Regions from separate parts of the Homo sapiens genome. Here all the other regions are linked to region 4. Evidence: fine-mapped expression QTL. A gene starts in region 4. Each other region holds a variant in brackets. All regions are shown on one strand. Distances are from middle to middle. Region 1 overlaps LOC105377094 (a long non-coding RNA gene). Region 2 holds the start of LOC124906242 (a long non-coding RNA gene). Region 3 overlaps CACNA1D (calcium voltage-gated channel subunit alpha1 D). Region 4 holds the start of CACNA1D (calcium voltage-gated channel subunit alpha1 D).

Region 1 (7,952 bases), 140 kb after region 4:
CAGGAGTTCAAGACCAGCCTGGCCAAAATGGTGAAACCCTGTCTCTACTAAAAATATAAAAACTAGCCAGACATGATGGTGGGTGCCTGTAATCCCACCTACTCGGGAGGCTGAGGCAGGAGAATTGCTTGAACCCAGGAGACGGAGGTTGCAGTGAGCCAACACGGTGCCACTGCACTCCAGCCTCAGCAACAGAGTGAGACTCCATCTCCAAAAAAAAAAAAAAAAAAAAAAGAAAAACAACTTATTAAATGAATTAAATGCATATGTAAAAATCATTATGAACCAGGCATGGTGGCACACACCTGTATTTCTAGCTACTTGGGAGTCTGAGGCAGGAGGATCACTTGAGCCCAGGAGTTGGAGGCTGCAGTGCACTATGATCACACCTGCGAATCGCCACTGCACTCCAGCCTGGGCAACATAGCAAGACCCCCATCTCTAAAAAGAATTATTATTATTATTACTACGTTAATTTTGCCAGATAAATAAATATTTGTGAATGAATAATAGTAATATAAGATTAGAGGCACCCTAGAACTGAAACTGGGAAGATACAGAAAGCATCAGGAACAGAAAGAGTCTATAGGTTCTGTTGGTACTTCTGCAGAAACAACAAAGAAGCTTGCAGTGTTCAGAATTGAAAAAGTGGACAGATGCCTTTAATCAAACTCTTCTTATTTTGTTGGTCTAAGAAATATTTGTATTTTCGTATGCCTGAGGGGAAAAGAAAGGCAGGATTAAAGGAACTCTGAGCATATTTGTGGAACTCTCATGGAAAAGTGCATTTTAAATGACAACCTCCCATTTTGGCTTAGCAGATTACTTCATGATGCAATTGCAAAATCAATTGCCTAATGGTATAGACAAAAACATTTTTGGTCTTTAGCCACTTTGTGACTCTGCAAATTTGTGCCTCTAACTGATTGTAAATGCAGAGCTATGCCTGGAGTTCTTTTAAAATCTTGACTTATTGTCAAAGCACTAAGCAGTGTGTTCTGGTAAATCATGTGCTTAATTTTAATTCTATTTCTGAAGGCTGAAGTTTTATTGCTGACTTTCTAAACAATCTGGAGCGGTGTAATTAACTGAGATAGGCTTCACTGAGGTAACAAAGAGACCCCAAAGTTCATCATCTCTTAAAGTCAACAGGCTATGTTTCTCATTCACATAACAGTCTGAGAAGGATAGTCTGGTCATCAGGCAACACTCTTCAGTATGGTGATTCAAGGTCCAAGCTCTTTCCAATCCTGGCTCTGCCATTCCTTATGGTCTCACCATTGCGGCACCCAGTCAACAGAAAAGGAATAAGAAAGTGTGGAGAGACAACATGCTCCTTCAAACCTGGGACTGGAGATGGCACACAGCTTTTCCACTAATATTCTGCTGACCAGAATTGGGTCATAGAGCCATGCCTAATGCAAAGGAGCTTGGGAAATGAAGCCTAGCTGTGTGCCCAATGCAATGGGGAAGGATCAAAGGATTGTTGTGAACCCAAAAGAGCTCTGCCACAGTCAAGTCAGCTAATCTCCTCTTACCTCTGAACTCCTTCATCTGCAAATGGGCAACAATTTATGTACATCCAATATCTATTTTGAGAGCTTGTGAATAGGTATACCTAGGAAGTACTTTGAGCTCCATGGATAAGCAGTGTATCCGTTGACTATATTGCTATTGTTTATGCCACTGCTGTGCTATTGCTATTTGAAACATTACACTGAGTTAAGTAACAGTAAAAAACATAATACTTTCTACCTAAGAACATCATAAGAACACTATGTTACAAAGTCTTGCCTGGTAATAAAGGGATGATCTAAAGGCTGTCTAGTCCTACCTTCCTATATTCTAGGTGCATTACTCCAAATGGAACAGCTATTTCTTCCTTTCTGATTGAAAGCATTTCTGCTCCAGAACTGACAGACTAAACTAGTTCACATTTCAGAAGTATAATTCTAGAGAACATCAAGCACCTTTAAAAATATAAAGTATCATTTTAAAATACAAAGTTCTGAGACCTTTCTGAGAAACCGAAAGAAAGCATTACTGTCCCAAATATCTGGTAAGGACCTGGAATGAATTTTACAGTAAGTCCACAATCTTTTGGATCAATCATGAAAAATAAATATCAGTGGTGAAACAGCAGCACAAGGATAACAAGTTTCACTCACGTGTAGCCAGTGTAATTTAAGAGCCTGCCAGGCAGCATGGTAGCAAGATACGTGATCTACCTGGAAGCCAAGGCTAGAAGATGCTAATCTTAACTCAGCAGATGAATCATTATATGACCCTGAGAAAATTAGTTAGCTTTGGTTTCCTGGCCCAAAAAGGCGAACAGGAATAAGCGGATACTTCCAGAATAAATTTTAAAAATCAGAGAGAGAGGCCGTGCACGGTGGCTCACGCCTGTAATCCCAAAACTTTGGGAAGCTGAGGTGGGAGGATCACGAGGTCAGGCAATCGAGACCATCCTGGCTAATACAGTGAAACCCCGTCTCTACTAAAAATACAAAAAAATTCCCAGGCGTGGTGGCGGGCACCTGTAGTCCCAGCTACTTGGGAGGCTGAGGCAGGAGAATGGCATGAACCAGGGAGGCGGAGGTTGCAGTGAGCTGAGATAGGGCCACTGCACTCCAGCCTGGGTGACAGAGCAAGACTATGTCTCAAAAAAAAAAAAAAAAAAAATCAGAGAGAGGGAGAGAGGAAAGGGAAAGAGTGGGGAGGGGGAGAGGTAAAGGAGGGCAGGGAAGAGGGGAAATGCGGGGAGAGAAGAAGAGAATGGAAATGGAGAAACTTGTAAGATTGAAAAGGTGCTGAAGATTGTTCTGGGCTACACTAAAAACAATATGTTTGCTTCAGGAAGCATAAAGCCTCAGAATGAGAATATATTAATACAAGTAAATCAGGCATTATTATTTAATTAGCACTCATGAAAAACAAATGGTTTGTTAGAGGTGGAGTTGAAATCACCATCCCTTCTGTAAGATTTATGCAACAGAAGAAGAGAGAGCATCCTAACATTCCAATTAATTCAAGAGATACGTATGTTAGGCCTTGATTTTGCCAGGTACTGGGAATGTAATGGTCAAAGAGACAGACATGATTCCTACCTTCATCAAATGAATGAGACAGACCACACATAAATAACTACAACTTGCAGATAAGTGCTATGAAGAAAGTGAAGGAAATGAGTCATGAGGATATCTAAGAAATAACAG[A/G]AAGAAGAATGTTTCAGAAAAGGGAAACAGCAAGTACAAAGGACCTGAGATAAGACTGCTTTGGCATTGTTAAGCAAAGTGTATGGGAGGCCATTATTTTGGACTAGCCTCCTGCACTAGGCCCCAGCAGACCAGACAAAACCATAATGGAGTCACTTGTGCTAAGTGACATAATCCAACTGAACTCGGAAAAGGGCCCATTTTCCAAAAACAGGAGATTTACAGCAACCAATCAGAAGGGCCCTAGTTTACCTGAGCTGGCATAAGGAAGTTTCTCTGTTCTAACACTATAAGGAAATTAACTTTGAAGTGACCAATCTGCTTTTTGTTTCCTGTTTCAGCTTTCTTCAGCCCTTCTCTGCCTGTAAAGCCAACCTCCTCTGATCAGCTCATTGGAATACTCATTCTATTTTATATACCCAATTCAAGAATGACAAATGAAAGCCAATTTGATCTTTAAACTAAATTTGTTGTAATTTTTTTCTTTTGTAATATACAGAACAGCAAGGTGGCCAGTGGGCTAGTGTGAAATAATTAAGAGGACAATTCATAGAAAATGGAAATGGAAAGACAGCAGGAGGGCAGACCAAACAGTATCTCCTGGACCCGTTAAAGGCTTTGGATTTTACACTGGAGAAATGGAAAGCCTGCGACTAACTGAAAAAGTTACACAGCTGGTAGGTTAGGAACTAAAGGACTGATTTCCCGACTTGAATTCCAGTGCCCTTTCCCTTAGATCCCACGATGTAAAGTGGCAAGTTTGATTTTTTACCACAAAGCCACTCCAACTGGGGGAGAGGAGGGATTGGATTGATTGGGTTTTAGGTTTTCATTTTTTAAAATTATTTTTAATTTTTTAAAAAATAGGCCAAGTCGGACATGGTGGCTCACGCCTGTAATCCCAGCACTTTGGGAGGCCAAGGCAGGCAGATCACCTGAGGTCAGGAGTTCGAGACCAGCCTGACCAACATAGAGAAACCCCGTCTCCACTAAAAATACAAAATTAGCTAGGCATGGTGGTGCATGCCTGTAATCCCAGCTACTCGGGAGGCTGAGGCAGGAGAATCACTTGAACCTGGGAGGCAGAGGTTGCTGTGAGCTGAGATCATGCCATTGCACTCCAGCCTGGGCAACAAGAGTGAAACTCCATCTCAAAAAAAAAAAAAAAAAAAAAAAATAGGCCAGGCATGGTGGTATGCACCTGTACCCCCAGCTACTCAGGAGGCTGAGGTGGGAGGAATGCTTGAGCCCAGAAGTTTGAGGCCAGCCTGGGAAATATAGCAAGACCCAATTTCACACACACACAAGTTGACATACATGGAACACACCTCAAAAGTTGAAACTGGCTGGGCGCGGTGGCTCACGCCTGTAATCCCAACACTTTGGGAGGCCGAGGCGCGCAGAGCACGAGGTCAGGAGATCGAGACCATCCTGTCTAACATGGTGAAACCCCGTCTCTTCTAAAAATACAAAAAATTAGCCAGGCGTGGTGGCGGGCGCCTGTAGTCCCAGCTACTCAGGAGGCTGAGGCAGGAGAATGGCGTGAACCCGGGAGGCGGAGCTTGCAGTGAGTGGAGATCATGCCACTACACTCCAGCCTGGGCGACACAGCGAGACTCCGTCTCAAAAAAAAAAAAAAGTTGAAACCACTGTTGCAAAGTTTCTGACACTTTGAAAAGTCTAGCATGGCTGACCCTATCTTCCTTCTGGCCTCACAGGCTGGCTCTTCTTGCTCATTTCTGGGCACAGACCAAGATAACAATGAGAGGAATTTAGTTTATAGTTTAACTTGGAAGCAGACATGATAATAATCTCTCCCTAAAACCAACCCCCTCCTTGATGAGGGACTGAAACCGCCTTTGTAAAACTAACTAAAGGCCATGAGATTAGGATTAGGGGAGGGGCCTGAATTCTGCTAAGATGAAGGCATAGTTTCTATAATCCCTTACTGCTCAGGAGTCATGTGGCCAGAGGTCACAAAATTTGTAACTTCCTCCATTGCTCCTATAAATAACATCACTATCGTAGACCCTAAGATTGGTCTTTTGAGATATTTTTTCAGACTTTGCATTCTGGCAACTGAGTGACCCCACCTGGACCCTGACTCATGACTTAACTAGTCCTGTGGCCCCCACTCAGAGGCAGACTCAGTGCATTAGGACAGTTTTCCACACCCCTATGATTTCATCACCAACCAATCAGTAGCACGCATTCCCTAGCCCACTACCCACCAAATTATCCATAAAAACCCTAACCTCTGAGTTCTCAGGAAGACTAATTTGAATAATAACTCTAATCCTTCCATTTGGCTAGCTCTGCATTTATAAAATTCTTTCTCAGCTGGGTGTGGTGGCTCATGCCTGTAATCCCAACACTTTGGGAGGCCCAGGCGGGTGGATCACGAGGTCAGGAGTTTGAGACCAGCCTGGCCAATATGGTGAAACCCCATCTCTACTAAAAATACAAAAATTAGTTGGGTGTGGTGGCACATGCCTGTAGTCCCAGCTACCTGGGACGCTGAGGCAAAAGAATTGCCTGAACCCGGGAGACAGAGGTTACAGTGAGCTGAGATCATGCCACTGCACTCCAGCCTGGGCAACAGAGCGAGACTCCATCTCCAAAAAAAAAAAAAACAACTCTTTCTCTACTGTAATACCATGGTCTCAGTAAATTGGTTTTGTCTGTGCAGCAGGCAGGAAGAACACGTCGGGCGATTACAAAGTGACTGTAGGTTATTGTGTCTAGAATAGAGCCTCCTTCCCAACTCTGTCACTCAGCTTCCTCCCCTCCTTCCTAGTAGTGTTTTGTGTGGCCTGGAAGTAGTTGGGTTTCAAGAGGACATTCAATCACCAATATTTATTGAGAGTCTACTCTATGCTAGGAGCTGGGCTAGCTAGGTACTGGGGACCTAATAAGACTAAGATGCCATCTCTGCCCTCTCAGAGTCTATTGTCTAAAGACACAAGAAAGGTCTTAAGGTTTGACTCACAAATATAAGGCAAAATTAGGCCTCACGATAAATGAAGATGAATTTCAAGTCCAAAATATTCATATTATCTTTAATATGTCCTAAGAGCTATATGGGGCATCAGAGCATGTTTAGAGGCAGGCAAATATGTATTTCGGAGTGATTTTCTTTTTTTGTTTGTTTGTTTGTTTGTTTTGAGACAGAGTCTCACTGTCGCCCAGGCTGGAGTGTAGTGGCACGATCTCAGCTTGCTGCAAGCTCCACCTCCCGGGTTCACGCCATTCTCCTGCCTTAGCCTCCCGAGTAGCTGGGACTACAAGCGCCCGCCACCATGCCTGGCTAATTTTTTGTATTTTTAGTAGAGACGGGGTTTCACTGTGTTAGCCAGGATGGTCTCAATCTCCTGACTTTGTGATCCGCGCACCTCAGCCTCCCAAAGTTCTGGGATTATAGGCATGAGCCACCGCACCCGGCCCAGAGTAATTTTCTATTCCAAATATGAAAATTCCCTAAAATAACTTGGTGTTCTTTAATAGGCTAGCCCTGCTCAATCAAAAATAGTAAATTAAAATGAAATGTCTTCGATTATTTTAGGAAATCTATGTAAGAAAAAAAACTAAGTTTCAGGTGTGCCTTTTGAATTTTGTACCAGATGAATGTATGTTTTTTAAACATTAAAGTGCAGATTTTTAAAAATTAGGGTGCGGATTTTTAAAACAGATTGAAGGTAAGTAGAGAGGAATAGGGCTCTTACCTCCAGCCACTGGAAGGAAGAAAGGCATCTGGGGCGTGTAGGAAAGGATCCCAGGGTAGAAGATAGGAGTCCCTAGATTCTAATACTGGATCCTCTGTGACTAGTGTGGAATTTTGAGCCAGTGAATTCTCCCCACAGGTCTCAATTAAATCATCTGTCAAATGAGGGTGACGACATCTTCTCTACCTCACCACTGAGCTGTGAAATGAACCAGAGGCCTTACTTTTTTCCCCTGAACTCCCAGTCATCCCTAGAACACCAATTTGAACATCATCTCCTTCAGGAAGCCCTCCTAGACTTTCCCAGCCAGTTAAGTTAGCGGCTCTGTCCTCTGGATTTCAAAGAGAAATGTCTCTAGCATCATCCCTGTTTCCTTGCACTGTCCTACTTTCTTTTTTCCCTCAGAGCCAGGAATGTCTTAAACAGAGTGAGATGCTCCCAAGGGGCCACCAGCTCACAATTAGGAGTTCAATAAATACTGACTTAAGAGTGAATGAATGATATCTGTGTCTTTGTCCACATTTGTACATGTTTACATGATTCTGCAAAGAATCTAAATTTCTCTTTACATTAACAAACAGGGGGGCTGGGCACGGTGGCTCAAGCCTGTAATCTCAGCATTTTTGTTAACCAGGACAGCCCTGACAAAATAACTGGGAAAGTTCCTTTTTCTTATTGTTTTTCTTTGGTCCCTTTATCTATAGACACTGCTGCTTAAAGAAACCAGATGGCGCCAGAGCTTCTTGACCCCTGACCAGATGCCAGAGGAAGATAAGACACCATAAAACCAGCGCAAATGGGAACTGGCAAACCCTGGGTGCCTTTAGATCATGAACATATCATTATAATGCTAATTTCCCTTCCCTAAAAGAAAATCTCTGCCATTTTGTGTACATATGATATATGAAGATGCATGTTTATGAATTGGGCCTGCGTGTCTGGAGTCCCACCCTGCACATACTAACATTCCTTTCCTGCCCCATAGGAATAAAGGCAATAAACCCCTTGCCTTTTA
Region 2 (7,952 bases), 150 kb before region 4:
CTATTATATATTTTTATGCAATAGGCAAATGTGTATTTGAAAATAAATTTTATGTTTCTGAAGAGAACACTTTATATTCAGAAACATTTTTAAAAACACAAATTTTAGGATGATTCCCATAAGCCTGACCCTTTGAGGAACCGTCACCTATTAAATGTTTGCTTGCAGTATCCCCAACACCCTTGTGCATTTAAATGGAAGCCTTGCCTGTGCTGCCCCTGGGCTCCGGCTGTCTGCTGCCAGAATCGCTTCCCCTCTGTCACCGGCCGTGCCAGGCAGAACATCCCTTTGTCGTGCCACAGGTATCCTCCCTCTTGACCACCATGCAGCCATGGCCATGCATCCCAGTCTTTGCCCCCATTCTCCACTCTTCACTGGTCATATAACAGGGCTTCCTTCCAAGGACAGGGCTGTTGTGGTTCCTGTCATTTCTAAACACTTGCCCTCCAAAGCTCCCTTTGCTCCTCAGAACACCATTATAACAGTCTAGTGAACGAATTGTGTGTGTGTGTGTGTGTGTGTGTGTGTGTGTTTTGAGAGTTAGCCAGCATCAGTGTGTTTATAATTTAATTTAGAAAGCCTAGCTCATCTCCAACCTCTATACTCATGCCCCCTCTAGACTTCAGACCAGTCCTGTTCTTAGCCAGGCTCATCCCATGCCCCCATGCCTTCTTCCCCCATGCCCTTCATACAGCTACATGAAATGCCACGCTCAGAGCTACGAGGATGCCCTTCCTTGCTTACTGTCCAGATTCCCCGTTGCCCCATTCCCTGCCATATCCCCCAGAGGAGTGCTTGCTCGGGAGGCATGCGAGGCGTGGCTGCTGGAGGAACGATCACACACTCAGGCCACTGCGGTATTCTGAGGAGCAGGGACCAGCATTGCCACTGGATAGAGGGAAAGATACAGGAAGGCCTCAATGAAGCCATAACATTAACTCTGAAAGCTCAAAGAAAAAGGAACTCTGTTACTTCAACCAGAGGCAAAAATCCCTGAAAATGCCAACCCACAGTGCTCACATCAGACCCTGACCACCAAAGGCAGATTGTCAATATGTTTGAGACTTAAGAGTTCTAAGGGAACCAGAGAAGCTAAAAACAGCACACTGATTTTACAATTCATCCCTTTTTATCCTTGCTGCTTTATTTACTAGGCCAGAGAGAAAAAAAAAAGCTTTTGCTGCCATCAATATTCATAGCAGTTACATACCTACGTCAAGACAGCACACTATACTTCAGAGCAGAAAAACAAGGCAGAGAACAGACAGTACACCTCCCAAACAAAGCTTGTTTTTCCTCTCTGACTTTTATTTAGAAGAAATTTTGCCACAATAACACAAGGGCCATTAGTATAAATGAACTGTTTAACGTTCTTTTTCCTTCTCCTTTGCCCTCTCCCTGCTTTTTAAAGAATTTGGTTTCTCTTTCCAAAATCCTTAGTGAATTATTTGATGGGATTCTTCATAAGAAATACAAACTTCCTTTAATGCAATTCTTTATTACAGAGATTCTACCATGATGCCAACTGAACAATCACAGCCTGGAGAGCAGGCAGACCAGTTTGTCTAGAAGCCAATGTCATCCCGGTCCTCAATCCTGCCACTAAAAAGGAATCCTATGAAACAGGTATCCCTCCACATTCAACAAATGAAGTATTATTTTTAAATCTTGCAAAACGTCGTTCAGGAGAAGTGGGATAATTATTCGCCTTACAAAAGGATTGTTCATTTGAGAAAAGAATGTTGAATTAACAATTTGAAAAGGAAGCCAACAAGAAAGTCAGGTTCCTAACAGGCAAGGTGGGACTGTGGGCCCAGCCAAAACAGCTAGGTGAGAGGTGACACATAGAGGACACTGAGGTCTGTGGCCACGACTGATGGAAGCACAGAGGAAGAAGCACTGTCAAGGATGAAAGACTGGGATGGCAGAAGAAGGGGCCAGCAGGAACCCTCTAGAACCATACATGAAATGAGGCGTCCCTGGTATAAAAGGCCTGAGCAGGAGCTGTACCTTAACAGCCCTTCCCCAGGTACAGGGAAAGAGTAAATGATTCTTGCATCTCATCCCCCTCTGTGTGCCAGGCAGAGTCACACCTGTGGCACTCAGTCACCCACCAGCAGGGATTTCTTCTCCCTGGCAGGAGATCCTGAGTAGGCAGGGCCAGTCAAACCTTCCTTTAGAAAACAACGTCCAGAAACTACCCTGTATATGGACGGATGTCCCCCCACTCCCTCCCCCTACCCCGCCCACGAGAACTCAAGCCACTAGAGAAACAAAGGCTGAAATCTAATTCTAAAACCTGATGTGTCTTCTTTAAACAGTGAAATTTCACCAACAGGAGAGGCTCTAAATCAGTAGTCTCTAAACTAGTTAATAATCTCCAAACCAGTTAATGCTGTACAGAATCTTGAGAAACAGAAACTGTCAACTAGCAGGAGGTGGGAGATGCCAAAATCCTTCATTAGACTTGGTACTTTCCTTTCCTATTTTAAGAATCCTCTTATTAGTGCTGTGGCATGAATACTTGTCCATCTGTCTATCCATCTATCCCCGAGCACCTGCATCCTTCTCAGCAAAGCCAGAACCCTGTCCTCACAGAGCTCCCAAGCTGCTGTCAAAAGGTGAACAGAGGCTTGATGCAGCCAGGTAAGAGTCACTTCTCTGTTTTGCTCTTCCACCCATGTGCCCCAAGGCTTTGGGAAGGCTTTCTGGCTTATACTCTGCCAGAAGTCCCCCTCTCCCACTGACACCTTCCATTCCTTCTGTGCCCTGCAGTCCTGGATTCTCTATTGAAAGGGGCCCTCTCTTTGTGTCTTTAACTGTAGCATCAGACATATGTAAGGCACTCATAGGTGCTACTAGAAAGCAGAGAAGAAAAAAACCGAAAGGAATAAAGCTATAGATCTAGACATGTAGAGGCTATTACAGCATGAGGTTTTATGATCCTAGCATATGTATTTAAAAAACAAAAACAAAAAACAGGATACATATGTATGTATCTAAGTTACCATAAACCCTTTTTAGAACAAGCCTGAAATAAAGAGTCAAACTGCTAGGACAACAGCTGATCTCAATATCTCACCTGGCCTCCCCTGCTATCCCAACCTGCAGCTTCTTGGTTAAGGATCTCATCCTTTCATCCTTGCCTAGATTCCTCTTCCAACTTTCCCACCTCTCCTCTGTCAGAGTGCTTCACTCCAAGTCATGGGCCAACCTGCTCCCTCCCACACATGCCAGCCACCTTCCCACCTCCATGTCTTTGCC[G/A]TCCCTGCTTTATCCACCAAGGGTGCCTGCCCCATGGACATGAACTTCCCTCTTTAGATGAATAAGCATAGAGCTCTGTGATACAGGGCCAAAAACGCACCCAGCGGGGTTGAATGCAAGGAACACAGGGCTTGGAGCCATAGATCTGATTTCTGCTAGTCCCAACTCAGCCACTGATTCATGCTGTGGCCCTGGGCCACAGTGGAACCATTCCACATCCTGTTCCCTTCTTTCTAAAACAGTCTCCCCAACCCTCTTTCTCATCAGACTACACTCTGCTTGCCCTTCAAGGCTCAGCTTAAATGACACTTTCTCAGCAAAACCTTTACTGACCTCCCAGACAAAATTAGAGCCTGCTGTTACATGCTGTCAAAGCCCATTATACTTTTCCACAGCCGTAATTCACAATAGAAATTTAAATTTTAAAAAATTACCTCTTTAACAGAAAGCCAAGAAATAAATCCAGGCATTTATGGTCAACTGATCTTTGACAGAGGTGCCAAGAATACAGAGTGGGGAAAGGACAGTCTCTTCAATAAGGGGTACGGTAAAACTGGACATCCACATGCAGAGGAATGAAATCAGACCCTTCTCTCACCCCATATACAAAAATCAGCTCAAAATGGATCAAAGACTTAAACATTAAGACCTAAAACAGTGAAAGTACTACAGAAAAACAGAGTAAAAGCTTCTTGACATTAGACAGGGCAAAGATTTTTGAGATATGAGTCTGTAAGCACAGGCAACATAAGCCAAAATAAACATATGGGATGGCATCTAACTAAAACGCTTACACACAACAAAGGGAAAACCACCAGAATAAAGAGACAACCTATGAAATGGGAGAAAATATTTTTAAACCATTCATCTGATAAAGGGTTAATATCAAAAATAGATAAGGAACTCAAACAACTCAATAGCAAGAAAACAATCTGACTTTAAAATGGGCAAAGGACCTGAACGGACATTTCTCAAAAGAAGACATACAAATAGCCAAAAGATACATGAAAAAGTGCTCAACATCACTAATCATCAAGGAAATATAAATTAAAACCACAATGAGCCATCACCTCACATTCATTGGAATGGCTATTGTCAAAAAGACAAGTGATAAGTGTTGGCAAAGATATGGAGAAGAGGGAAGCTTTGTACACTGTTGATAGGAGTGTAAATTAGTACTGCCACTATGGAAAACAGTTACAGAGGGTCCTCAAAAAATTAAGAGTGGAACTACCATATAATGCAGTGATCCCACTTCTGGGAATGTATATACAAAGGAAATGAAATCAGTATGTCAAAGAAATGTCTGCCACGCCCATGTTCTTCATAACATTATTCACAATAGCTAAGACATGGAATTAACCTCCATGTTCATCAATGGATGAATGGGTAAAGAAAATGTGGTATAGATACACAATGAAATACTATTTAGCCTTTAAAAAGAAGGAAATCCTGTCATTTGCAATAACATGGGTGAACCTAGAGGACACTATGCTAAGCTAAATAAGCCAGGCACAGAAAGGCAAATACTGCATGATCTCACTTATATGAGGAGTCTAAAAACACTGAACGCACAGAAGCAGAGAGAAGAATGATGATTACCAGAGGTGGGGGTCAGGAAGATTGGGGAGATGTTGATCAACATATAAAAAATTTCAAAGTATACAAAAGCTAGAAAGAGTAAGTTCAGGAGATCTATTGTACAACATAGTGGCTATAGTTACAACAATGTATTGCATACTTGAAAATTGCTAAGACTGCATTTTAAATTTTCTCACCACAAAAAAATAAGCATGTGAGGTAATAGATATGTTAATTAGTTTAATTTAGCCATTCCGCAGTGTATGCATATATCAAAACATCATGTTGTACACCCTAATTATGTAGCTATTTGTCAATTTTTAAAAATTGCCTCTTTAATATTTGTCTCCCCTAATAAATTATCATTCCTTTAAAGCCAGAGATCATTTCTATTTCATGCATCATTGCATTCCCAAGGCCTGTCACAAAAATAGATATTCCGCATTTATAAATGAATAAATAAATGGGCAAAATGAGAGGTTTTGACCAACTATTATTAAATGTCCCTTCCCACTAAGAAGTTCTATGATACCAGCGCCCCCTGGTTTTGCTCTGTTCCAGGAAAACATCCATGAGTGCATGTCAGGGAAAGGCTCAGCACAGCCACCTGCTCCCTCATCATGGCCCTCCCTGCTCCAGGCAGGGTGTTCCATCCAGAAGAGGAGCCTGCACGAAGGCAAGCTGTTCAGGGCGAAGAGCAGTCCACATGGCTGAAGCACAAGGTATGAGGACAGGTGGGAAGGGAAGGGACAGGCTGCAGGGACACAGTGGAGGGCAGACACAAAGGGCCCCAGGTGCCACGGTACGGGGTTTGGTCTTCGTTTCTCATGTGTGAAATGAACAGACTAAATCAGATGATCTCTTCCAGTTGGAAAACAACAATTGTCTATGACCTGGTGAGCAAAGTCTCCAAGGACAGGCTTCACAGGGAGGCTCTGTGAGGGCGCAGAGACCCCAGGGAAGAGCTGACCAAGCAAGAACAGCAAGAACCGAGAGCAGCGGCTGCTTTTTCAAGTGGCTGGGTCGATTGAGGCCATCGTGCACATTCAGGCTGGGCTTGCTGAGACACCCTCCCACTCACGACCCTACACGTTTCAGGAGGTGACCCAGGGGAGCCGCAGCGCTATCACACAGCTTCTACAAGCCGATTCAACCTCTAGTAAAATTTTGGTGGGTAAACCACAGGAGGCTGGTGGGCAGGCAGGCGTCGGCTCAGAGATGCTTGGCTGTAAATAGAGGTCATTTTTTCCCCTGCAGGTATTAATGAAGTATGCACTTAGAGGAACAACAATGGGTAATTTAACACCACATTTACATGAAGAAACTGGCTACAGTAGTCTGTTTGCCCTCATCTTTCTTCACCTTCGGTTTAAAAGTACACATTTTATGTGACATTTGTGTCCCCCAAGTCTAATGCTAGTCTCGACAGCTGTGTTGCCCCGTTTGAGACATTTACCCCTCCTGATTCCCAGTTCTTTCATCCATAAAACAGGGACAATCATTCTTGCTTTGCCTTGCCCACCAGTGTTATGGTAAAAGCCAGATTAAGTAACAAGTTGGATAGAGCTGTGCAAACTATAAAGCACCTCACAATGGAAGGCTCGCCCTGACTAAGGATAGGTGAGACAGCTCCCCAGCCTGTGGGAAGTGTGAATACACTTCTCCCTGTGGATGCAGACTCTCTGAAGAGGTTTCTCCTGAGATCCCACGACAGTTCAGTGACCCCACAATCACCCAGGTGGGGCAAGGCCCTGGCCCAAGATGCTGTCTAGAATGTGCCCAGGGATGACAAATGGAGGTGGCCAGCAGGGTGACCTGGTGGACCACTCTACGGAGCCCAGCTTCAAGGACATGCGGTCTGTGGGAAGAGGGCAGCAGCATGCCTGGGGCGGCAGAGGCTGGCAGGGAGCTCTCCTCCTCACCGGCAGAGCAAAGGCAGCTTCTGCTTTGCTGCCAAGACTACAACAGTTAGCCTGGATGGGGCAGTAATGATGGCCTTGCCACCCAGCAAAACTCCAAGGGTAACAGCACCCTGACCTTCCCCCAGGAACTGCTCCATTCCTGCTCTCATCCCAGGGGCAATAAGAGTTGGCATGCAGCCAAGGTTATTGGTTCGGGGATAGGCATAAGCTCCAACCCACACCAACCGGGTCCGAAGAGAGCAAGTCTGGGAGCTTTCCCTGGGGTAACTAGGTAAGAAGTTCTTTTGTTGGCTGGATTCAGCCCTGAGAGACCACAAGCCTAGAGTTGCCAGGGGGACATAGAGATGAAGAGCTAACACCCACCAAGGGAAGCCAAGCCAAAAAATGAAGAGAAAGTGTGCCAGTCAGCCAGCCAGCCAGCGAAACTCAGAAGCAGGCACCTGGCCCTGAGGCCACTGTATGCATCCCTGGATCAAGTTGAGCCTGAAGTCAAAAATTCCCTTCTCTCCCCTCCCCTCCCCATTTGGGCTTTTCAGTTATAAAAGCCACCAAATTAAGCTAGTTTGGGTTCAGTTTTTGTCACCTGCAAATGAAGGAGTCCCACCTAAATATTAATACAATGGGCTGTAGGATCACTCCATGTCTCTAAAATGTTGAGGTATCTGAGAGAGAGAATCTTCAGTAGCTCCTCATTTCTCAAGAGACAACATCTTTGATGACTCCCTCTGACCCACAGGTTCAGCGGTGGTTCCCTATACACAGGGCCTCCGAGCCCTATAAGTCACTGCCTCTGGGAATTCATCTAGGCTCAGCTTTCCAAATTCCCTCCTTCAATCTTTTCCGTTCTCTGTTGCCATCTTCAATTTCAACTGGTTTCCTGTGCTGTGCACACTCTTGTAAACTTGACGCTTCAGACTTGCCTTCCTTCCCATCCCGTGCATCCCAGGGACATGGACTCTGAGCTCCCTTGGCAGAGGGTACATTCTATGCTTGGCAGCCTCCCACTTCCGCACCCAGCTTCACCTCTAAGGCACTGCCCACTTCCATCCCATCTCGCCTGGCAGTTCAGGGACCCTATTTCAGCTCAATTCAACACCACTCACTGGTTATCTGCTCCATACCAGGCATGATCCTGAGCACTGGGGATTCAAAGATGGCTACAACACTGTTCATATCCTCAAGGAG
Region 3 (7,952 bases), 210 kb before region 4:
GAGACAGTGTCCAGCCACTGACCCTAGGGCCAGCCCCTGAGTCAGCCCTCCCACTTCCCAGTGAAAGCACTTCCAGCTGCCTCTCCAGTGAGGGCTCTTGACCTGGACGCATATTTACCGTATGCCACTCTAACTGCTGCTGTTTGCTTTACAGCTTTTACTTGAGTATCTTCCATTTTGAACTTGTGCCTTGAGGTAGTTCAATGGTGATGAAAGCAGTTTTGTAAATCAAAATTTCAAAACACAGTCTTTCAAAACAGGACCAGCAAATTGCTATGCCTTATGCTTGCAACCAGCTATAACGTCCTGGTTTTCTGTCCACCCCCAAAGCAAACATTGCAGTAAGAGGCAACTAGGTAGCACATGCAAAAGAGAGGCAGCTAGGGCAACCTGCTCCACCAAGCCCCAGGGTGGCAGAGTCCCCGGGCAGGCAGGGGCAGTGCCCATAGCCTCCAGGACCACTGAAGAAGCAGAAGACAGAGAGGCTGCCCTTGTGGTCAGAGATGAAGTTTCAGGTATGCCCCTCCCTTTCTTTGGGCATCAAATATCTTTACTTAGAGGAATTATTAATCATTAATAGTTCCTACAATAAAATTGCCCTGCTTTTCTGGCCAGAATTTTAGAATGAGCTCCCTTTAAAATGATTTCATTTTTAATGCTTTTTTTTTTTAAGACTAATCACTGACAATGAGAAGAGTTTAAAATAGAATTTTAGGCTTCCAGATTTTAATGGTCCTAGCAAAACTCCATTGTTAACTCAGAAGCAGCTGCATATGTCTAAAAAAATCACTTTGAGATTTGGCAGGGTTTCTTAAGAAACTTGAAGCTCAGCAAAAAGTTAAATAAATTATCCTTGAAAATTTACCAAATGCTCAGGAACTCACTTCAAAGGGAATTTTGTCCATTCAGTTAATTGTGTAACACCAGCTTTCTAATAGCAAATTTATGAAATTGACATTTTAAATATTCTATGAATGCACAAAGCTGGAGCTACCTGTCACCAGTCACCAGACAGCTCAGTTAGAGGCCTGATTGCCTCTCCTCTTCTTTCAAGTGAATGCCTGGAACAGTGTGATATTCAGCCACTGATAGCATCCTGGACTCAGGAGTTCTGAACCCTAGCTTCACATTAGAATCCCCAGGGAACCTTAATGAAAAAGAGCCACCCCTGGCTCCCACCCCAAGATTAATCAAGAGTCTTAGAGGGTGGAGTATGGCATCAAGAAGCATCCAAGCTCCCCAGGTGATTATAACGTACAGCCAGTGTTGGGCATCGCAGACGCATGCAGTGACATTTAGCAGATCAGAGAGAAAAGATAATGTGAGCGCATCTCCAAGTACTTGATTTGACATCTGTTCCCTGACAGCAAGCACCGCCAAACTAGAAATGGACTTCAAGAGCCTGAAAGCTGTGCTGCCCTATCTCGAAAGTGACCTAGTTAACAGATTTGTTTTCCATCAATACTTCAGAACTTTATAGTTTCTGAACAGAAAAGCACAGGGCAATGGTCCTAAGAGGGAGGCCCCACCCTGAGGCTGGTTAGCGGTCTAGGAGAACCTTCAAAAATATTATGTTTAGGAAAGTCAAATACTGCATATTCTCACTGATAAGCAGAAGCTAAATAATGTGTACACATGGACATAGGGTGTGGATGGAATAATAGGCATTGGAGACACAGAAGGGTGGGAGGGTGGAAGAGGCATGAGGGATGAGAAATTACTTACTGGGTATAATGTACACTTTTCGGGTGATGGTTACACTAAAAGCCCAGACTTCACCGCTATGTAATATGTCCATGTCACAGAACGGTATTTGTACCCCCTAAATTTATACCCCTAAAATTCTGTTGAGGTCAACTTTTACTGGTGTCTGATGAAAACAGCAGCAGCACATACTACAACTATGACTACTCCTAGCAGTCACAGAACGTTCAATTGTCACAACAGCCCCATGGGGAGATATATCTTTATCCCCTTCTTGCAGACAAGGAAAGTGGGGTCCAGAGAGGTTGAGTAATTTGCCTAATACTAAAGTCCAAATTCCAAGTCACAAAACTCCATTGCAGCCACATCCGGAGAAGGGGCATCAAGATGCCCTCCAGCCCAAGCCTTTGCCTCCTGTGAGCTCACAGACATCTGCTGTTATTAATGACTTCCTACACCCACTTCTGCTCATCTAGGCTGAGGCTCGGCTATCAGGAAGCATTTCTTCTCACACTGTCACTTCAATCCTCAAGGTCTGGGAGGAAACTGCTCAACTCACATCCAGGACCCAGCTGAAAAGGGCTCTCAGTTGAATTAGCATCCTTAGCCATTATGGACAAAGTCAGGAGCCCGGGCCCTGCGCCATCCTCCTCTCAAGAGGTAACAGAGGAGCAGGGTTGGAGTGGAAGGCACGTGGGGTGATCTCACACCCCCAGGGAGGATGCAGACACCGTAACACTGGCAACACCCACATTTCTACTGCCTGCTAATCAGATGCACAGAGACAGCCCCAGACCTGGCATGTGCATGTGGTGAATCCAGGACTGTTTATTTGGTGAGGAGGACCATGTGGGCCTCACTGAAACCCTCTCCTTGTGTGGTTTTCTGGCTGTGACAGGAAGAAAATGGCTGGCAGCCACAGGAGGCCCCAGGGAAACCTCAACAGTGCTGTCTCCTCCAGAGGGTCTGGGCTGCTGAGGTCTGTGATCAGAGAGGTTCTCTCCTCAGAGGAGGAGGAGACTTGGTGCTCTCAAGTCAGCTAAATCCCATCATGGCCTCCACAGCCAAGATTTCTGTCTTTATTTAAAACCCTCATCAGCAAGGCTCTGGAAATCTGATGACTCGGGAAGCACTGTGAGCCTCACTCCACAGGAAACCCCAGCACCTGGCAAAACGAGCTCCATAAAGAACAAGGGCGCACCACAGAAATATTTGCTATTCTGGATCAAACGTTAAGCTAGTTAATCATTTTGAGTCACACATCACGGTGCATAGCAGAAACAATACTGCTGATGTTCCCAAGACACATTGCAGCTTTATGGGCTTGGGAGCCCCAGTGAGAGTGAATTCTGAAGATCTACAAGGCTTTTAAACAGGTTTTGTTTCTTTCCTAGATTATATTACTGAGCAATGCACTTAAGGGCCCTGAATATTTGTCACTTCGCACACCTTGTTTGTGCCATTTCCCCAGCTTGAAAAAGCCCCCACCCCCAACCTCTGCCGCCCAGGGCTGCTCCTCCCACGGAGCCTTCCTCACATCGCCCCAGCCTGCCCACTCCCACCAGCCAGAATCATCGCGCCCTCCTGGGCTCACACAGCAGAGTGCTGGGCCTTAACAATGGGATCAGCTTCTCACACTAAGCCACTCCTTCTCCATCTTCCCCTCATGGCAAGTTCTCTGAAAGGCAGAGTCATTGATTTCTGTCATCATCAGGTTTTTACAGTGATAGGTCATAGGAAATGCTGGGCTGAGATAAAATGGTTAACCCTCAAGATATCACCTTAAATCCAATGAAAACCCTTAATCCTCAAATCATAGGCCCTATAAACAACTCTACCACGACTAATGTTAGCAACACTAGAACACGAAACCTTGTCTACTTCTAGAGGAGGAGAAATAAACAGAGGAAAGGCCACTGGCCTGTAAGAAGGCCTCACTCAGCTCCCTGGGGGACACAGCTAAACTAGCAAAGAAAGACACTCTGCTGAGAAAAAGGGGCCATACCTCCTCTCGTTTACAAATAACATGTTGGGTTTAGGGGAGATGGGGCAGGTCAGCATCTGAGTTACAGTTTGCAAGTGAAGGGGAAAAGAGCGGTGCAGGCATCTCCAAGCTGCACCTACATGGCCTGTTGCCATACTGCAGGTGCAGAAGCTCCACGAAAGCCATGGGGTTCACGTTGGCTCAACTGCCAAGGGGAGAGCTGTGCAGAGGACAGGCAGACACTCTTACATCTGATCACTTCATAGGCACATCGCTGAGTCTGAGACTCACATGAATGTCTATTTATAAACTCTGAACTTGCATTCAGCAAACAGTTAGCTCTAGAAACCCTCCCTCAGTCTTCTGATCCTCAGGTGCTAAAGTCCTGGCCCCTTCCTGAGCCTGGCAAGAAGCAGGGAGGGAGAGAAGAGAGGCCTGACCCTGCCCACTCCCAGTCAGCACACTGGTTTGCACCAGCCAGGGCATCTGAGATCACGGAACACACTCCCTCCCCATGGAGGCACAGAGCCCAGGCTTGAAGAAAGGTAAGGGCCCTCTCAGTCAAGAAGCCTCTCCACCAGGGGTCTCTCAGCCCCCACTTACACACTCCACAACCTCCAGAAGAGGCACAATTGCACCTCACCCACCCTTCCTATGGCAGCTCACCCCGACCTTCATACCCTCTGTGCTCCAGCTGAAGGGCCCACTGCTTCCTCCCTGAAACCTGGCCTTTGTCCACCTCCACGCCTCCCTCACGCTAGTCCCCTGGGTCAGGGTGCTTCTTCTGACACTGAATGGTCACACCTGCAATCCATCCATCCTTCAGGGCCCAGGCCAAATGCTCCCTCCAGCCCTGTCCTCGATCCCTCGTCGGCGGTGCCTGCCCTCTATGTGTGCCCTGCAGCTCTGCTCCCCAGGGCTGCATTTAGTGTGACAG[G/T]CCTGTCTCTCCCTAGGAGGCAGCACTCCACATCCTCTCCAGCTCTGGGTTTCCCCTGTACCCAGCAACAGGCCTTGCTGAGAGCAAAACATCCAAGGCGCTCTGCTCAAGCAGGGACTTGCTCGGCCATCTTCTACAACGTAGGGCCGGCCTCGGGTCCCCAGGCCTCTCAATGGACATGTGCACTTGAAGTACGTTCTTGGTCCTTCCTATCCAACTCTTCTAGATTTGAAGCAAGTCACAGACATCTCAGTCAAATGCATTGCTGGATTCCAGTTTCCACTCTGACCCGAGGCACAAAGGGCCCCAGAGAGAATAAGAGCGCATCTGTGGGAAAAGTATGCAGTGAAAGAGACACCGTGGTTGACAATGGCAATTAATGTCAGTGATGGACTGAGTTCTCAGGCCTTGCCTCCTGCAGAAGGTGCTCTAGGGTGCTTAGTGTCACAGTGTGGGGTGTCGATGGGTGACAGCAAAGCAGCTGTCACTGACTCACGTGCCCCTTAACACCTGCCTAGAATGGTGAGCCGGTTTCCTCCCAGCCCCTGATGGGCTAAGCATATGGCTTCATATGAATAGCACATGTAGGAGCCATGTCAGGTGGCCTAAGAGTAAGAGTCAAGAGGAACCCTGCACTTCAAATTCTTGTCCAATAACACTGTTCACTCTGAGGTGAGGGAAACCACAGCTTCTTCTCCTGTGGTACAAGAATATGTGTCTCATCACCCCTGTGCCCGCACAGAAATGCGCTTACTGAATTTCCCAGGCCAACAGTGGGTCCGTTTGACCTTCCTTGGCTATAAAGCCACCTTACCAAATACAACTCTAAACCCCAAACCTCAGGCAGAAATCCAGAGTCAGCACCAATGCACCTGTTCTCTCCGTGATGTGTGCAGGCAGAAGGGACCAGATGGCTGGGAGGAGGCTGTCCCACTCACAGCCTGGGTCAGAGTCGAGGAAGGCCTACTGCTAGGCGTCTGAACCGCACACTGGGTCTGTCTAGCCAGGGGCAGGAAAGGCGCTACATACTATTTCGTTTGCCTTCCTCTCCTCCTTCTTCCTCATTCTCCGGATCGATGTCCTCAGCTTGGGTGATCCAATCCAAGTAGCCCTTTAGATCCTCCTCCAGCTGCTGCTTCTCCCGGAGCTTCTGGAAATCTCCCCGTGCTTTTGCCTTCTCTCTTTCCTTTGAGAATTCTCTGAAGGAGGCAAAGAGGACAAGCACATATCAGGACATCCTTGGGGACCTGCATCCTGAGCCACTGCCCTACTGCACAACAGTCTTGTGGGCAGGACACACAGCACTGAGTATAGTCACATGAGCACAGCAATGGAGCCACACACTTGGACAGGACAGAAGACAGTGTCTTCCAAAGCAAGACTATGGGGGTCAGAGTCGCAGAGCCCACACCAACACACATGCATCATTTCTTAGAAAATGAACTCCCCTCGATGACAGCGATCTCAAGGGGCCTAGGCCCAAAACACCATGTGCTGTCATGGCAGGCCTCTGACACCCCCCAACAAGGGGCCTGAACTCAGAGACGCCCCACTTTCCCCAGAGCCTCCTCAAAGAGGAGGGACCCAAATGGGCCAAGCTGTGGTCAAAGAGTACCAAGTTTAGAACTTCTTCAATGCTTTTGGACAAACTTTGCATTAATATTGTGTGCTACCCCTTTTGTCCAAACCAAGAGCTCTGAGCAGGCAGCAGTCCTTGCTGGTGCCCACACTAGGCTCCTCTACCCATCACCTGCAGGTTCGGGCCAGAGCAGTGCATGGAGTCAGGGCAGTCCCCACCCCCTCCACAACCCAGTTCTCCCTTCCCAGATGGGAACTCGAGCACTGATGAAGCATTACTGTTTTTCTTAACCCCTGCTACTTGTCATGGTCTTCCCCAAAAGTCTTCCCTGCAGGAGGGGAAGAGGCATATGATTTTCTGCCCATTTATAGGAACACCTGCCCTGGAAAAGATCTGGCAGACAGGTAAATGTTCCCAATTGTGGGGTGTTTATGCTACTTTCCACCATGTGTGCAAGCCTCTGACTATGCATATATACAAAACCCCACATACTCAGGCAAGCCTGAGAGTCAGGTGGACGATTACCCAATTTTTATATATGAGGAACCATCTGCATCTCCAACCGTGAGTTGTTATAGGAGCCAAGATATGTGAGTTAGAGACTTAGTAAAAAGCTGCCAAGGAAGCAGGTGAGGTTACAGCAATGCAGTTTCTGCACACAGACCTTGAGATTCTGACACAGGTTACTTCTGTCTGCCTTCTTGCCTTTGTTCCGAGTCAAAGCCAGCATGTCTCTTTCAGGGTCCTACCTCGATAAGCCAACCCAACCCAACTCAACCCAACCCAACCCACGAATGGGGAAGTGACCTGCTTTCATAAAGCTAACCCCAGCCAGGCACGGTGGCTCACGCCTGTAATCCCAGCACTTTGGGAAGCCAAGGTGGGTGGATCATGAGGTCAGGAGTTTGAGACCAGCCTGGTCAACATGGTGAAACCCCATCTCTACTAAAATAAAAAGAATTAGCTGGGCATGGTGGTGCAGTCCCAGTTACTCAGGAGGCTGAGGCAAGAGAATTGCTTGAACCTGGGAGGCAGAGGTTGCAGTGAGCCAAGTTCATGCCACTGCATTCCAGCCTGGGCAACAGAGCAAGACGCTGTCTCCAAAATAATAATAATAATAATAACAACAACAACAAAACTAACCCCATATTCACACCCGTCTCTTAACTCTAGGCTGTCGAGGGGCTGAACAGATGCTTGCACACCCAGTGACACTAATACTTCAGATAAGAAACTGGAATCCTCACCAAGTGCCACCCTCTGCCCACAATTAGAAAGAATCCCACTCAGACAGAGGTTGCGGCGGGCTGAGATTGCACCATTGCACTCCAGCCTGGGCAACGGAGCAAGACTCCATCTCAAAAAAAATAAAAATAAAAATAAAAAAGAAAGAAAGAAAGGAAAAAAAAAAGAAAAGAAAAAGAAAGGATCCCTCTCATAGCTTCTAAATCACCCCACTTTCCAGACTCCCTGGAACCTATCCTTGGTCCTGTTAGGGCTGTCAGTCTCCACTCCACCCCCTGTGAATAAGGAAGGAGGCCAGGCTTTGTGGATCTAGAGAGTGAGCAGGAGCCGATCTGAGCCCAGACACGTGCTCTGACCTCCCAGCCCAAAGAACACCTGCTGTCTCAAAGAAGTAAGGACTCCAGTGTCTCGCCATTCACATGTACCACACCCTGAGAATGGTTTGGGGTTTCTAGGCCTCCGGGGTTTCCTGACACATGGGAAATACATAACTCAGCTCTAGG
Region 4 (7,952 bases):
TCATCTGCCTAATTAAAAAGCCATTTGCTCAGAAAGAAGGCCTCAGTCAACCTTCTCTGAAGAGTGGCAGTAACTGGAGGTTGGCCTCCAGATTTAGGGAAGGGGTTAAGCAGGCTGAAGCACAATCGTTTTCCAAGATCTGGGACATGACAGCCATTCTGGGGCATTTGGAGTTCAATTTTAAAAATACAAAGGAGACACCCAGAAATGTACCTCCAGTCCAAGGACATAGACAGAATTTTTTATAAAGGCAGCAACTGCAAATTCCTCCACTGAAAAGGCTGTTCTATAACTCATAAGGGCCCAGGAGGAAGAGGCACACACGAGCCTCTCCCTTCACTGGCTCCCTCATGCTCACGTTCCAAATGCTTCTTTGGAACTTGTCAAAAGGAAATTCCAGGAAGTTATAGCACTGATCAGAGAAAAAAAATCAAAAGTAATCTCTCCCTAGGAAGCATGTGCTCATATCTGCAGCTACCTGAATAATTAGAATCACCAAATGTCAGACTAGAAGCAACCTTAGCATTAATTGTAGTTGCAGAAGCAAATTTCAAACATCAGAATGAGAAGATTCTACTAAAGGTCAAAAATGTATTCCCTTCAAACAGAGTCTTATACAGTCTTTTTTTCTAATCTGTATACCTTGTTTGCAATAGGTTCAATGCATGCTATTGCCCAAAGACAACACTGAATTTAAAACTAACCATCTAATGTCCAATAACCAAAGGTTGGTTTCACATTTTAATTATCTGCCCCTGTGAAGTTTCAGGCTGTCACTCCCTCCCCCTACTACTACTACTATACACACATCCAGACAGTGGGCTAAATATACCCGTACAGCCACCCCTCTGCAACCCGAAGAGACAGGAAGGTATATACAATGAAACCCCTTATATACAACTTCTGTTACTCGCATTCCAGACTGCTACAGCTTTGTGTCACTTCAGAAAGCAAATCCTTTTAAAAAACAGATGGTAAAAGAGAAAATGAGAAAGACTTCCCCCAAAAAAAGGATACTTCCATTCCACTATACTAATGCAGGCTCTTCGGATGGGGTTATTGAGTGATAAACAGAAAAGGGCGCGGGCAGGTCGGCTGTTGGACGAGTTACCCTGTTTTTTGCTCTTGGCGTATTGCTGACGTTTTCTTTGGGAGAGAGATCCTACAGGTGGGGGTGCAGAGGTGCTCATAGTTTGGGCAGCCTTGGCCTGTCTAGCAGCATCGATTGCAGCTTGCCAAGACAGGACAGTTTGCTTGGAGCTATTCGGCTGAGAAGTTGGTCCTTCACCAGAAAGAGGAAGTCTGGTGCCTCTTGCATAGTTTGCCTCTGGGGAGAAGGAGAAAAACAAAGATTTTTTTTTTTAAATGAGGATCCAGTGGGTAGGAGAAAAAAATCAAAGGTTGTCTCCCATCAATAACAGGGGAATCATTCACTCCTATGTTTCCATTTTGAATCTCATGTGCTATTTTTCACAAGCTGGGCTTTAGTCAGCTGGAGAGTCAAGAAAAGTCCACGAGCTCTGGTCTCAGTGTCAATCACACAGGATCACCGCTGCATCACACCCAGTGGGGTTAGTACTCCTTCACATCATGTCTTCACAAAGGGTCTTTTAGTGCATTTCTTCTGACAAAACTGAGGTCATTCCCACATTTACTCCGCATCTCTGATTTGTAAAACCCATCTATCTCTAATGAGTAACAGATACATACAACAGCTTTTCTCTAACATAACTACCACCATCACCAAGGGGAAAAAAAAAGGCAGTACCAATAATTCAATAGTCTTAATCATTTTCAGAGTGTTACTCCAACATCTTTCCACAGCCACAAATGCATTTTTTTCAGTACCGAAAAAAAATCTTCCATAGGCACCCAGGCAATACCAAAAACCCCATAACAAATATCTAGATTATGCACTGACACTTCCTGCAAATGAAAATTCATGATGCTTGGGACTCATTTCCTCCACAGGCTTCCGAAAACAGAAAACATCTTTAGGGCTTTTTTGCATTTTAAATTGCAGCAGCATCAGCCAAGCCAGCATCCAGAGAGACAGACAAGGCAGTCAGCCTGCACCCCTACACCTAGGATAGACTGACTGGATTATGCCAGGGGCCTCCAGGCCTAAGAGGGAATTATCTCCGTGTAGGTTGGTATCCAGGTGCACACAAGGCAGAAACTCAAGGAGGCTCCCTATGCGAAGCCCCCGCCAGCTTTGGGTCAGGCCATCTCCCAGGCAGATCTCCCAGGCACCTGCCGCCTTCCGCCACAGTCTCCTCACTGAAGCAGAAGTGAGAGAGGTGACAGCAAGGTAGAGAGATGGGCGTTTGCAAAGCCAATTATTGCTAAGTAAAGAGTCAAAGCAAGCACGGGTCTGAAAGCCTGAGAAGAGGGCAAAGCGGGCGAGCGGCGGGCAATCGGAGCGGGGACGAGTCGAGTCATGTCAAGCTTCTCCCTAGGGGAGCGCTCACCCGGAAAGGCTTCCAGCCGACAGGGGTTGGGGGGCACTGGCGGTCTCCAAAGGGGAGGGCTGGCCAGGAGCTGCTCCATCCTCCCTCGACCCAGCCCCGGCCGGCGTGGAAGCTGCACGTGGTGCCCGGGCCAGAGCTGGGGAGGGGAGCCCCACAGCGGCAGCGGCTCCCCGGGCATTGCTAGGTTACCGACGTGTGCACAGCCGGCGACGGGAGCGGGAACGCACGCTCCACCCGAACCCCTTTCCCCGATACCGAGGCCGGGCCTCCCCCGCGAGGGGATGGGTGTGCTTCACCCACCGGCGCGGAGGGCGAAACCGGGCAATCCTAGAATTTTCCGGATGCCACCAGGGACCTTCTTCCTAGTCAACGAGGGGGCGGGGGAGGAGTGGAAGGCGAGAAGAGGCTGGCAAGGGGGCTCCGGCTGAAGACTTGCGGCCCTCCTGCCATCGCTCGGGGGCGTTGAAGGAAAGTTGAGCCCGAGGACACTGAACCCGAATCACCCCGACTCGCCGCCCCTCCGGCTGCACCGCGCTCCACACACTCCACGGCCGCCCCCACCCCACAAATGCAGAATTAACTCTGACATTCAGGGCCTGGAGGGGAGCGCGGAGTGGCTGTCACGCATGTCCCCTCTCTGTGTAGACGACACCGAGCTGGCAGCACCCTCTCCAACCCCCTCAACCCATCCAGCGCCGCGGGGAAGGGGGAGGGGGCTGGAGGACCATGACAGGATCGGATTTGGCAGCGGGTGCCCGGGCTCTGGCTGCTCACCGTTCGCGTGGTCCGCTTGCTGCTGCCGTTGATGCTGCATTTTTTTCATCATCATCATCATCATCATCCACGAACATTTATTGAGCGACTACTGTGTGCAGGGCACTGTGCTGGGCGTTGAGGCGGGGGCGGAATGGGGAAGGGGATCACCAAGAGGTAGGAGCCGCGGTCCCTGCCCTTATTCTCGCTTCAGCAGGGGGGTGGGGAGGGACGGGGACAAATAACAGAAAATAAGGATAATTGATTTAAAAAAAAAACCGCTCGCCACCCAAGCTCTCTCTTTTTCAAAAATGGAGCAAAATAAACTTTTTAAAAAAATAAAATCCAATGTATATATTATCTTAATAATATATACATGTAATTTTTTGCTGCAAAGGAGAACTGGCTTGTCCCCTCCTCTAGCGGAGAGACGCCGCGGTGATGCCGGCCCGGCCGCCGGGGCCGCTCGGCGCTCCCCCCATGCCCGCCCGTCTGCCCGCCCGCCGCGGTGCCCGGTGCCCGCCGCCGCCGCCCGCGCCGCCGCTGGCTCGGGACCGCGGGCAGCCGGAGCTCACATCCGGGGACGGAGGCGCTCGCCCGCCCGCTCGCTCCGCGCCCGCCGCGCCGCGCCGCACGCCGGCTTCGCCCTGGCGACGCTGCGCGCCCGCCGCCGTCCCCCGCCCTCCGCCCGCCCCGAGCCGCCCACGGCCCGCGCCGCGCCGCGCCCCGGCGGGTCTGCAGCCCGGCGCGCGGTTCTGCCCGGCACCACTTGCGCGCTCGGGGTGGCCGTCGCGTGGGACTCGGGGTGCCGCCACCCCAGCCTGGCCCGGCTGACCTGCGGGCTCCAAAGGGTTAAGCGCGCTCCAGCGGCGGGCTGCCCGGTTAACCCCCTCCGCGCCGCACGGTGCGCTCTCCCCCCGGGACCCGGAGGAGGCAGGCGGCGCCAGTGTCTCCCGCGGCGCTGGGGTGCGGATGAACCGCTCCTCCCCGCGCATTTCTGGGCTGGGGGACAGCTCGGGCTCCCGCGCCGGCCCCGACTCCGCGCCGGCCTCCTCTGCGCACACCTGGAGGAGGCCCCGCCCCCTGGGAGCTCAGGTGCTAGCGGGCGGTAGCTGCTGCGGTCTCCGAGCTCATCCTCGTCAAGGCTCGGCCGGGCTCCCTGGCTGCTCCGGAGCGGGGCAGGCGCCCCCTGCTTTTCTCCGGCCCTTTCTGGAATCGGGGGGGTTGGGGTAGCCCGGGTCTGTAGAGAGCACTCACTACCCCAGGTAACTGCCTGCAGCTGGAACCGCGAATCCAGGGCGCCCCCCATCTTCTCCCCTGCCCTGCGCCTGGCCTGGCGTCGCGGAAGGCAACGGGGATGGGGGGCAATATCTCCCCCCACCCCACCCCGCCCCCACGTGTGTTTGGAGGCAGGTACAGGGAAGTCAAAGCCAAGGTCTTTCAAACCGCTCGTGTTGTTCAAGGAAATAGACGGTGCTGCTGAAACTGTTGCCTCCAGTCTGGGAGCTGAAGGGAGTAGTTTATTTTTTGATACCTTCGCTGGCTTGGATTTAGGGTGGGGGAGATTTGCAAACGGCAGCTCCTGTCTAAAGGGGAAAATACTTTATCTAGTGGATGACTGATATTTTTCATTTAGCTTTGTGCTGCCTGTTAGGAGAAGGGCGTCTGCTTTGTTACTTCACAGGATTCGATTTATTTGCTTTTGTTCCTATCTGCATGTTCCTACGGCGTTTTAGAACGTTTCAGAACAGTGACTTTAAAGCGAAAATAAAGTAAAAGCTCAGCGTGAATTAAGAAAAATAAGTGTTTATGGGAAGGTGCTCCTTACCCAAAGAGAACACACTAGTCATCCTCAATTGTTGGGGGGCACCTGGGCAGAGAGACTGGGGACCAGACAGAAGACTCTCCAGAGGCCTTCCTGAGGGGGTGTCTGGTCCGTGAGGATGAAAACAACCAGGCTCTTGTCCTTTTTTGTGCTTTGTTTTTGGAGACTGGAGAGGCGAGAAATCGCCCTACGGTCTAGTAACAATATAAAGCTGGCCTGGGCCACCTCTCCTATGGCTGCTTCTGATCCAAAATCTGAAGGGAATAGAAGACGGTTCCCTCCAAAGAAACTAGCCCATCCAAGGAGCATGTATGAAATTCACAAGTACACATGTCACTTTCAGAACTCCTGGTCTAAAGCCTTGCCTCTTGAGGCCTTTTCTACAAAATTCCCTGAGCAAGTTTGTTTTATGATACCTTTGCTGGCTCAGATTTGGAATGGGGGAGATTTGCAAACAGCAGCTCCTGTCTAGAGGGAAAAATACTGTATCTAGTGGATGACTGAGCCGAACCATATTTGCTCATTGTTCAGTTCAGTGCAGCCAGCATTCATAAGGCACCGGTTAAGAATAAGGGTCTGGTCTAGATGTCAGGACAAATCTATGGCACAGTTCCTTCCTCAAGGACAACCTAATGACAGAAGAAAAGTTTGTATACTTTTTTTTTTTTTGAGACGGAGTCTTGCTCACTCTGTTGTCCAGGCTGGAATGCAGTGATGCAGTTTCAGCTCACTGTAACCTCTGCCTGTTGAGTTCAAGAGAGATTCTCCTGCCTCAGCCTCCTGAATAGGTGGGACTACAGGCGCGCGCCACCACCCTCAGGTAATTTTTGTATTTTTAGTAGAGACGGGGTTTCACCGTGTTGGCCAGGCTGGTCTCAAACTCCTGACCTCAGGTGATACACCTGCCTCGGCCTCCCAAAGTGCTGGGATTACAGCCGTGAGCCACCGCGCGCCCGGCCGTGTATACTTCTTTCATACCATGCAAACATAGCAGCTATAACAAGTATGAAAAAGCGCTATACAAGCATCAGACAGATTAATTGTAACTGAGGGAACTGAGATGTTTTCACAGAAGAGAGGGCATTTGAACTGATTCTTAAAAACTGACCGGGAGAAAGAGGGATGAATAGGTGGCATACAGGGAATTCTAGGGCAGTGAAGCTATTCTTTATGATACTGCCATGATGGACGTAGGACATTATGCGTTTGTCAAAAACCCGTTGGACTGTACACCACAAAGCATAAACCCTAATGCAAACTATAGACTTTTGTTAATAGTAGTACCACAATATTGGTTCATCAATTATAACACTGGGGTGTACCAGTGTTATAACTGTGTATATAGTGTAGCTCACTAATGCAAGATGTTAATAGGAGAAACTGTTGGGGGAGAGAATATATGGGAATTCTGTCCTTGCTGCAAAATTTTTCTGTAAACCTAAAACTGCTCTTAAAAAAAATAAAGTCTATTAAAAACAGGTGACTACTTTTACAGGGCATAAATGATGTATGAGGAATGAGCTTTGGGGGTAAGAGCAAAGGCACAGGGGAGACTGAAGTGCAAGGTGGGTGTGTTTAAAAATGAGCAGGAGCACAGTGTGGCTGAGGCAAAGACCCCCTGGGCTAGAGGAGGAGGAGGCTGGAAAGGCCAACCCAAATCTGTGGAGGAAGGCTGGCTGGCTAAGAAGACCAGATTCAATTTCTTGGCAGTGAGAGCCAGTGAAGTTGTTTTAGCTCAAAAGTGACATGATTAAATTGTGGTTTCGGTCTCCAGGTTTTGTGCGTTAGATCTTAACAAGTTTATGGTATTGCAGGAGGGTTTGGGGTTTTTTTTTTAAATAATTATTTTTAGAAACAGGGTCTCACTATGTTGCCCAGATTGGAGTGCAGTGGTGTGATCATAGTTCACTGTAAGCTGCAAGCCCTGGCTTCAAGCAGTTCTGCCTCAGCCTCCCAGCGTGCTGGGATTACGGGCATGAGCCACTGCTCAGCCTTGAATTGGAGTTTTTGACATTCCATCCCAGTTTCTGAATGAGTCTCATCTTGGCGATGTCTCCAGCAAGCATTTTTTTTTTTTGAGGGCCTTGATTCAGCACAGCTCTAGATGCGTTGGCCCATTGGGTAATTTAAATATTTATATTCCCATGATAATGCAAACTACTGAATAAATAAATAATAAGATCTTTTAAAGGCTTCCTGTGTGCCAGGTTCTAGGGTAGGCACTTTATATGTACTAACTCATTTAATTCTCGTAACAAGCCTACGAGGTACTATAAAACCCTCATTTTGGCCAGGCTCAGTGGCTCATGCCTATAATCCCAGCACTTTGGAAGGCCAAGGCGGGCTTGAGTCCATGAATTTGAGACCAGCCTGGCCAACATGGTGAAACCCCATCTCTACTAAAATTACAAAAATTAGCTGGGGATGGTGGCGTGCGCCTTAAGTCCCAGCTACGTGGGTGGCTGAGGCAGAAGAATCACTTCAACCTGGGAGGTGGAGGTTGCAGTGAGCAGAGATTGTGCCACTGCACTCCAGCTTGGGCAACGGAGCAAAACTCTAAAAAAAAAAAAAAACAAAACTCATTTTACAGACAACAAAACCAAGACACTGAGGAGTTAAGTAGCTCGCCCAAAACCACACACAATTACTTAGTAGCTGAGCCAACAAGACATGAGGAAAGGCTAAAACAAAAGATTTCAGCTCTAAATCAGCTACATGTGCTACAACCCAATTATGTTGCTAACACACTATTGTGGGGTCTTAATCTCCATGACCTTATTTATAAAGCACTCCCACTTGAACGCACTGAGCTGGCATGCCAGACATGATTACCTGCGTGCACTGCATTTCAAAAAACCTTGCTGATGGCCCAGTCCAGAACCTCACCATCTCACACCCCAGGT

What was found. PIP is the estimated chance that this variant, and not a neighbour inherited with it, causes the effect.
Region 1: its variant is fine-mapped to the expression of CACNA1D in whole blood (TOPMed, PIP 0.99).
Region 2: its variant is fine-mapped to the expression of CACNA1D in whole blood (TOPMed, PIP above 0.99).
Region 3: its variant is fine-mapped to the expression of CACNA1D in whole blood (TOPMed, PIP above 0.99).

What each region holds. Positions count from the first base shown.
Region 1 is chr3:53,350,569-53,358,520 of GRCh38, reverse strand. It overlaps LOC105377094 (a long non-coding RNA gene), which reads left to right. Exons shown (of 3, transcript XR_940847.3): 3 at 7,642-7,751. Among named protein-coding and RNA genes, the nearest start is that of DCP1A, 7.0 kb to the right of the region's middle. RefSeq lists a silencer at 4,985-5,279. The variant A/G (reference allele first, on the strand shown) is at 3,216.
Region 2 is chr3:53,641,410-53,649,361 of GRCh38, reverse strand. The region is part of intron 3 of CACNA1D (calcium voltage-gated channel subunit alpha1 D); the gene reads right to left. LOC124906242 (a long non-coding RNA gene) reads left to right here and starts at 2,531. Exons shown (of 3, transcript XR_007095913.1): 1 at 2,531-2,646; 2 at 5,407-5,567; 3 at 5,714-7,952. The variant G/A (reference allele first, on the strand shown) is at 3,265.
Region 3 is chr3:53,700,513-53,708,464 of GRCh38, reverse strand. It overlaps CACNA1D (calcium voltage-gated channel subunit alpha1 D), which reads right to left. Exons shown (of 48, transcript NM_001128840.3): 9 at 5,655-5,824. Among named protein-coding and RNA genes, the nearest start is that of CHDH, 140 kb to the left of the region's middle. The variant G/T (reference allele first, on the strand shown) is at 4,626.
Region 4 is chr3:53,490,527-53,498,478 of GRCh38, reverse strand. It overlaps CACNA1D (calcium voltage-gated channel subunit alpha1 D), which reads right to left and starts at 3,868. Exons shown (of 48, transcript NM_001128840.3): 1 at 3,246-3,868; 2 at 1,018-1,327. The coding sequence starts at 3,312. RefSeq lists enhancers at 2,019-2,803, 2,804-3,589, 3,920-4,419.